Regions from separate parts of the Homo sapiens genome. Here region 1 is linked to region 2. The links come from fine-mapping of genetic effects on gene expression. Tissue or cell type: fibroblasts. Region 2 holds a variant in brackets; the other region holds the start of a gene. All regions are shown on one strand. Distances are from middle to middle.

Region 1 (4,136 bases), 85 kb after region 2:
ACTGGGACATCCTACACATCTGTACCGTTAGAAGGCCCCAGATGCTGTTTCCATGGAGACCTAGTCAACCAAGAAGCCTCACCCCTTGGACTAGCTTCCTGCCTCCATTCACAACCAAAAAAATCAACCAAGGTTCTCCACAGACATCCAGCTCATAAAGGAGGACCTGAGGCTGTCAGTGATTCCCCATGTGATTCATATTCTTGCCTCTCAGTTCTGAGATGTTGGGATAGTATCAACAAGTGCAGAGCCTCTTCCCTGCCACCTTAGGAAGCCTCATACACTTGACCTCACTTCCCCATCGATCCCACAGCCAAAGCAGATACTGCCCTCCGACCTAGCAGCAAGAGCTCCACCTGCACTTCTAAAGCCACTGCTACCTCTGCCCCCCAGGGACCAAATATCCAGAGTTGCTCTCCTTCCCTAAGGCTGGAATATGCCAAGCCCGCTGGCCACCCCTACACATTAAGCCCCCAAGTTCCACCTTCCTCCCAACCAACAGGGCTGAGGCTGGTGGCTCCCAGGCCCACCCTCATGCTCTCCCACTGCCTCTCCACCCACTAGGGCCCAGGCAGAGCTGGTTTCTGGTAAGATGCACTATCTCATCCATGGTTGGGAGGCACAACTTCCTCTTCCAGGGGTTTTCCACTTAGAAATCCCATAAGGGTCTCCTTTCCACAACCCAGTTGGAAATGACCCCAAGCGGAAGTTTCTCCCAAGAAAATTTATAGTCATAATCATAGCGAATTTCCAGTTCACTGAGATCTCACTTTGCACCAGGTGCTTCTCATACATTATTTCATTTAATCCTTTCCACAGTCCTACACAGGAGCAACCCAGTGGAAGGATTCTTTCTCCTGTGGGCAGAGGAGGATTCTCCCCACACTCCTCAGCTCAGCCCCTCCCTTGGCACTCCTTCCCACCCACCCACTAGCTACCAATTAACCCATCAGCACCAGCATTTTGCACAGTTACTAAACAGGAACATGGTCCTGTTCCTCTGCCAGTCCCATCCCCTGGACCTCTCATAACTGTGGGCCAGGTCCCTTCTGTATTCTTCAATTCTCCTAACACTGCAACAGAGATCCATTCCTCTGACCCCTGTACAGCCCCAGATAGGACGAGGCCCACCTCCTGGTCAAAGGTCCTTTCAGTTTCCTCCTAAGCCTGCCCACCTCCTAAGGCTCTACCCAAAGTAACATCACACCCTAAACAACCTCACCTGTCACCAGGCAGTGGAAGGAGTGACCAAGGGCAGCCAGGCCACTCAGACCCCATGGACACCAGCCCTAGCTTTATTCCTTACAGTGGCCCCAGACAACAAAATCTTGGGGAGATCAAAAGTCAGGCTGGACTAAGGGATATTTGGGGCTGATCCTCCAAGGTGTCAAGAAGGGAATTCCATGAAATCAGACCATCAGCCCTGCAACTCTCTCCACATAGTCCAGTCCATTCCGGGACCAACGCCTGCACCCTCAGACAAGGACAACCCAAAAGTGCTCTGCGGCTTTAGGACAGAGCTCACCCTCCCTTGTCCCACGGCCCTGCCCTCTACCAAGTTCTCCAACTCTCTGCTTCTTTAGGCAAGATCCCGCCCCACCAGCAATCCCATGCCCGCCAGATAGTGACTTACCAGCCCAGGCCAGGCCACACAGCACGGCCAATACCAGGGAGATGCAGGCCCTCATGGTGCCCAGTTGGAGGCCAAAAAGGGAGTGGCTGTTGGACTTTCACTAGAGTCAGATGAATGTCACAGCTCTCAGACGAGCCTTATTCCTCAAGCTGATCCTTTTAAAGACACCAGGACTTGTGGAGCTGGTGTCTCCAGATCCTTTCAGGAAGAAAAAGGGGAGGGAGGGACCCTAGATGGATAGGAGGTGGGGCCCTACAGCTGTTTGAAGCCTGAGGGAAGGTGACTAAGAAGGTAGGTAATGCCAGATGTTGAGAACAGGTAATGCTAGCTGTTTGCAGCTTAAAAAATAGGTCATGCAGGCAGGCACACCAAGATGGGTCCAGTTTGGAGGGTTCTTTGTCCAAATTAGGGACACCCATGGGCTGATCTTTGGGTGATCCCCACCAAACAGACACCTACTTCCAAGTCTCAGACCTGACTTTCCAAGGGGCCACAGGTTGGATTCATCTTCAAATTCCTGGAGCTTAGCATGACACTGGCACACAGTAAGGTGATTGGTCCAAATTTGACAAACAGTAAGTGCCCAAGCAAGGGTTGGGGTCATTGGACAGAGAGATAGAGGATGTGTCGGTCAGAACCAGTGCTATTCTTATGACCACCAAGCCCAGCATAGCTAAATCAGCCACATGTCGAGCGCATGGCTAAATCACTCTAAAATATTATGCAAATGACTCTTACTGAGTCAGCCTCTGGGGTTTAAACGTTTCAGATTCCTTATGAGGCAGGGGAGGGGCAAGAGGCCTCTTAAAGGCAGCCGAAGGCCCACTCTTCTTCCCCTGGGAGCCCAGGGTTTCACTCCCTTCACCCCAACTTACACTCCTCTCCTCAGGAACTCCTCCCCAGTGAGGTTCTTTTGTTTCCAAGTCCAAAAGAAGGGGAGCAGCTCCCCGTGACTGTCCAGTTTTCCCCGATAATAAAGGTAAAATCTGCCAAGTATGATGCCCTTGCCAGAAAGAGCACTGCATGGGGATTCTCAACCCTCTCAGGAAAGAAAACTATCATATAAAAAGGCAAAATTGGTGAACAGTGGAGGCCACTCTATCAGTGATTTTTTTCTGGAGGTTGGGAGTGGAGCACGTCTTCATCCAGTGTGCTTTAACAGGAGAAGTTTCTTCCTCTCGCTGGTCTTCAGCTTTCTCATCTGAAATGATGGGGTTGGATCTGACAATCCCTTCCAGGTTCTCAGACTTTAATCTCGAGTTTTCCTGCCCATGCGCCAGGTTGAACAGTTGCTGGTGGGTTAAAGAGAATCCCCCAGCCTGTTGCTGTGTAGAGAGGAGTCCAAACATAGGGACTCAGGGGTAGAGAGAAGGACAAGCCTAGGGCAAGCAAACTTTGCAAGGGGCTCACACAGGAAGTGCAATGTATGTATATATTTTGAGATGGAATCTCTCTCTCTGTCGCCCAGGCTGGAGTGCAGCAGTGTGATCTCGGCTCACTGCAACCTCCATCTCCCCAGCTCAAGCAATTCTCATGCCTCAGCCTCCCGAGTAGCTGGGATTATAGGCATGCACCACCACACCTGGCTAATTTTTGTATTTTTAGTAGAGACCATGTTGGCCAACCTGATCTCAAACTCTTGACCTCAGGTGATCTGCCCACCTTGGCCTCCCAAAGTGCTGGGATTACAGGTGTGAGCCACTGCATCCAGCCCGGAAGCACAACTAAAGAGTGAGCCTAGCCCTTCTCTCCCAGAAGGGAGCTGGTTAGAATGAGTAAGAGCAGAAATGGCTGCTTCATTTGCATAGATTTCATTTACACAATCCAAAAGCAGGCTGAAGAGTCACTGCCCCTCAGAATCCTCATCCTCCCTGGGTTGGCACCACATAAACGTGTCTCTGACTCCTGTTGTTTAGGGGACAAAGGAGGGTGTCACTGGCTGGCCTGGGAAGCAATGATGCCTCAGAATTTGGGAATGAATGGTCTGTCCCTTCCAAGTGTCCAGCTGGGTGGACCCTAGCTGAAGCCAAAGCTGTCAGAGTGGAGTACAGCCTGGCTAGGTTCTCCTAGTGTCCAGCTGAACTGGCCATGGGATGGTGTTTTGAGGGCAGGAGCTCTCCCCCCATTAATGGAATTTTAGGTCAGGAGCAAGGATTGGAGCTGGGGAAGACAGTTAAGGATGACTCCATAGAGCCAGATGGTTCATCTGAGTACCCAAGTGTTTAAAACTGCATCCTTCAATAAGAATAACAGCCTTAACAACCACCAGCAACATTGACTGAGCACTTACCACGTGTGTTATCATATGTGTTATCTCATTGATTCTCACTACAACCTTAATAGGTACTATTGCTGTCCTCATTTTACAGATGAAGAAACTGAGGCACAGAAAGGTTAGGAGACGTGCCCAGAAGCACACAATCATTAAGTTATGCAGCTGTGCCTCAACCCAGATCCATCTGACCAGGGGTCATTCTCATAAGCACCGTTGCTCCATTGCCCC
Region 2 (4,136 bases):
CAAATACAAGAAGCAAAAAGAACACCTGGGAAATTCATCACAAAAAGATCATCGCCTAGGCACATTGTCATCAAGTTAGCTAAAGTTAAGATGAAGGAAAGAATCTTAAAAGCTGTGAGACAAAAGCACCAGGCAACCTATAAAGGAAAACCTATCAGATTAACAGCAGATTTCTCAGGAGAAACCTTACAAACTAGATGGGATTGGAGCCCTATTTTCGGCCTCCTCAAACAAAACAATTATCAACCAAGAATTTTGTATCCAGCAAAACTAATCATCATATACGAAGGAAAGATACAATCTTTTTCAGACAAACAAATGCTGAAAGAATTTGCCAGTACCAAGCCACCACTGTAAGAACTGCTAAAAGGAGCACTAAATCTTGGAACAAATCCTGGAAACACATCAAAACAGAACCTCTTTAAAGCATAAATCACACAGGACCTACAAAACAAAATACAGTTTAAAAAGCAAAAACAAAAAACAAAAAAACCATGGTACATAGGCAACAAATAGCACGATGAATGCAATGGTACCTCACATCTCAATACTAACATTGACTGTAAATGGCCTAAATGTCCCACTTCAAAGATAAAGAACTGCAGAATGGATAAGAACTCACCAACCATCTGCTGCCTTCAGGAGACTCATCTAACACGTAAAGACTCACATAAGCTTAAAGGGGTGGAAAAAGGCATTTCATGCAAGTGGATACCAAAAGCAAGCAGGGGTAGCCATTCTTATATCAGACAAAACACACTTTAAAGAAACAGCAGTTAAAAGAGACAAAGAGGGACATTACATAATGGTAAAAGGCCTTGTCCAACAGGAAAATATCACAGTCCTAAACATATATGCACCTAACACTGGAGCTCACAAATTTATAAAACAATTACTAATAGACCTAAAAAATGAGATAGACAGCAACACAATAATAGTGGGGGACTTCAATACTCCACTGACAGCAGGTCATCAAGACAGAGAGTCTACAAAGAAACAATGGATTTAAACTATACCTTGGAACAAATGAACTTAACAGATATATACAGAACATTTCTTCCAACAACCACAGAATACACATTCTACTCAACAGCGCATGGAACTTTCTCCAAGATAGACTATATGATAGGTCATAAAACAAGCCTCAATAAATTCAAGAAAATTGAAATTATATGAAGCACTCTCTCAAATGACAGTGGAATAAAACTAGAAATCAACTCCAAAAGGAACCCTTGAAACCATGCAAATACATGGAAATTAAACAGCCTGCTCCTGAATGAGCATTGGGTCAAAAACAAAATCAAGGTGGAAATTAAAAACTTCTTCTAACTGAACAACAATAGCAGCACAACCTATCAAAACCTCTGGGATACAGTAAAGGCAATGCTAAGAGGAAAGTTCATAGCCCCTAAAGTTCATACCTACATCAGAAAGTCTGAAAGAACACAAACTGACATTCTAAGGTCCCACCTCAAGGAATTAGAGAAACAAGAACAAACCAAACCCAAACCCAGTAGAAGAAAGAAAACAACCAAGATCAGAGCAGAACTAAATGAAATCGAAACAAACAAACAAAAAGTACAAAAGATAAATGAAACAAAAAGCTGGTTCTTTGAAAAAATAAATAAAATTGATAGACCATTACCAAGATTAACCAAGAAAAGAAGAGAGAAAATCCAAATAACCTCATTAAGAAATGAAACGAGAGCTATTACAACTGACACCACTGAAATACAAAAGATAATTCAAGGCTACTATGAACACCTTTATGCACATAAACTAGAAAACCTAGAAGAGATGGAAAAATTCCTGGAAAAATACAACCCTCCTAGCTTAAATCAGGAAGAATTAGATACCCTAAACAGACCA[G/A]TAACAAGCAGTTGGTAATTCAAACATTACCAACAAAAAGAAGTCCAGGACCAGATGGATTCACAGCAGAATTCTACCAGCATTCAAAGAAGAATTGGGACCAATTCTTTTGACACTATTCCACAACATAGAGAAAGAGGGAACCCATTCTATGAAGCCAGCATCACCCTAATACCAACACCAGGAAAGGATGTAAGCAACAAAGAAAACTATAGACCAATATCTCTGATGAACACAGATGCTAAAATCCTTAATAAAATACTAGCCAATAGAATCCAACAACATATCAGAAAGATAATCCACCATGATCAAGTGGGTTTCATACCAGGGATGCAGGGATGGTTTAACATACACACGTCAATAAATGTGATATACTGCATAAACAGAATTAAAAACAAAAATCACACGATCATCTCAATAGATGCAGAAAAAGCATTTGCCAAAATCCAGCATCGCTTTATGATTAAAACTCTCAGCAAAACTGGCATACAAGGGACATACCTCAGTGTAATAAAAGCCATCTATGACAAACCCACAGCCAACATAATACTGAATGGGAAAAACTGAAAGCATTCCCTCCGAGAACTGGAACAAGACCAGGATGCCCATTCTCACCACTCGTCTTCAACATGGTCCTGGAAGTCCTAGCCACAGCAATCAGACAAGAGGAAAAAATAAAGGGCATCCAAATCGGTAAAGAGGAAGTCAAACTGTCACTGTTTGCTGACCATATGATCGTTTACCTTGAAAACCCTAAAGACTCCTCCAGAAAGCTCCTATAACTGATAAAATAATTCAGAAAAGCTTTCAGATACAAGATTAATGTACACACATCAGTAGTTCTTCTATACACCAACAGCAACCAAGCAGAGAATCAAATCAAGAATCAAACCAAGCACAGAATCAAATCAACCCCTTTTACAATAGCTGCAACAAAAAAATAAAATAAAATACTTACAAATATACCTAAGAAAGGAGGCGAAAGACCTCTACAAGGAAAACTACAAAACACTGCTCAAAGAAATCATAAGACGACACAAACAAATAGAAACACATCCCATGCTCATGGATGGGTAGAATCAATGAAGAATCAATGGGTAGAATCTGTGAAGAATGATGGTGGTATTTTGGTGGGGACTGCCAAAAGCAATCTTCAAATTCAACACAACCCCCACCAAAATACCACCATCATTCTTCACAGAATTAGAAAAAAACCATCCTAAAATTCATATGGAACCAAAAAAGAGTGTACATAGCCAAAGCAAGACTAAGCAAAAAGAACAAATCTGGAGGCATCACACTACCTGATTTCAAACTATACTCTAAGGCCATAGGTACTGGTATAAAAATAGGCACATAGACCAATGGAACAAAATAGAGAACCTGGAAATAAACCCAAATACTTACAGCCAACTAATCTTCAACAAAGCAAACAAAAACATAAAGTGGGGAAAGGATCCCCTTTTCAACAAGTGGTGCTGAGATAATTGGTTAGCCACATGTAAGAGAATGAAACTGGATCCTCATCTCTCACCTTATACAAAAATCAACTCAAGATGCATTAAGGGCTTAAATCTAAGACATGAAACTAAGTAAGTTCTAGAAGATAATGCTGGAAAAACCCTTGTTGTAGACATTGGCCTAGGCCAGGATTTCATGACCAAGAACCCAAAAGCAAATGCAATAAAAAGAAAGATAAATAGTTGGGACTTAATTAAATTAAAGAGCTTTTACACAGCAAAAGGAACAGTCAGCAGAGTAAACAGACAACCCACAGAGTGGGAGAAAATCTTCACAATCTATACATCTGACAAAGGACTAATATCCAGAATCTGTAATAAACTCAAACAAATCAGTAAGAAAAAAACAAACGATCCCATCAAAAAGTGGGCTAAAAACATGAATAGACAATTCTCAAAAGAAAATATACAAATGGCCAAGAAACATATGAAAAAATGCTCAACATCATTAATGATCAGGGAAATGCAAATTAAAACCATAATGTGATACCACCTTACTCCTGCAAGAATGGCCATAATAAAAAAATCAAAAAACAGTAGATGTTGGCGTGGATGCAGTGATCAGAAAAACTTCTACACTGTTGGTGGGAATGTAAACTAGTACAACCACTATGGAAAACAGCGTGGAGATTCCTTGAAGAACTAAAAGTAGAACTACCATTTGATCCAGCAATCCTACTACTGGATATCTACCCAGAGGAAAAGTCGTCATTATACAAAAGAGATACTTGCACAAGCATGTTTACA

The links. PIP is the estimated chance that this variant, and not a neighbour inherited with it, causes the effect.
Region 1: it holds the start of ENDOU, and the variant in region 2 is the best candidate, but not a certain one, in a credible set for the expression of ENDOU in fibroblasts (GTEx, PIP 0.51).

Annotation. Positions count from the first base shown.
Region 1 is chr12:47,723,726-47,727,861 of GRCh38, forward strand. ENDOU (endonuclease, poly(U) specific) reads right to left here and starts at 1,765. Exons shown (of 10, transcript NM_001172439.2): 1 at 1,634-1,765. The coding sequence starts at 1,688. All of the region lies in intron 3 of RPAP3-DT (RPAP3 divergent transcript), which reads left to right. RefSeq lists silencers at 2,280-2,399, 3,365-3,424.
Region 2 is chr12:47,638,280-47,642,415 of GRCh38, forward strand. No RefSeq gene overlaps it. Among named protein-coding and RNA genes, the nearest start is that of RPAP3, 66 kb to the right of the region's middle. The variant G/A (reference allele first, on the strand shown) is at 1,870.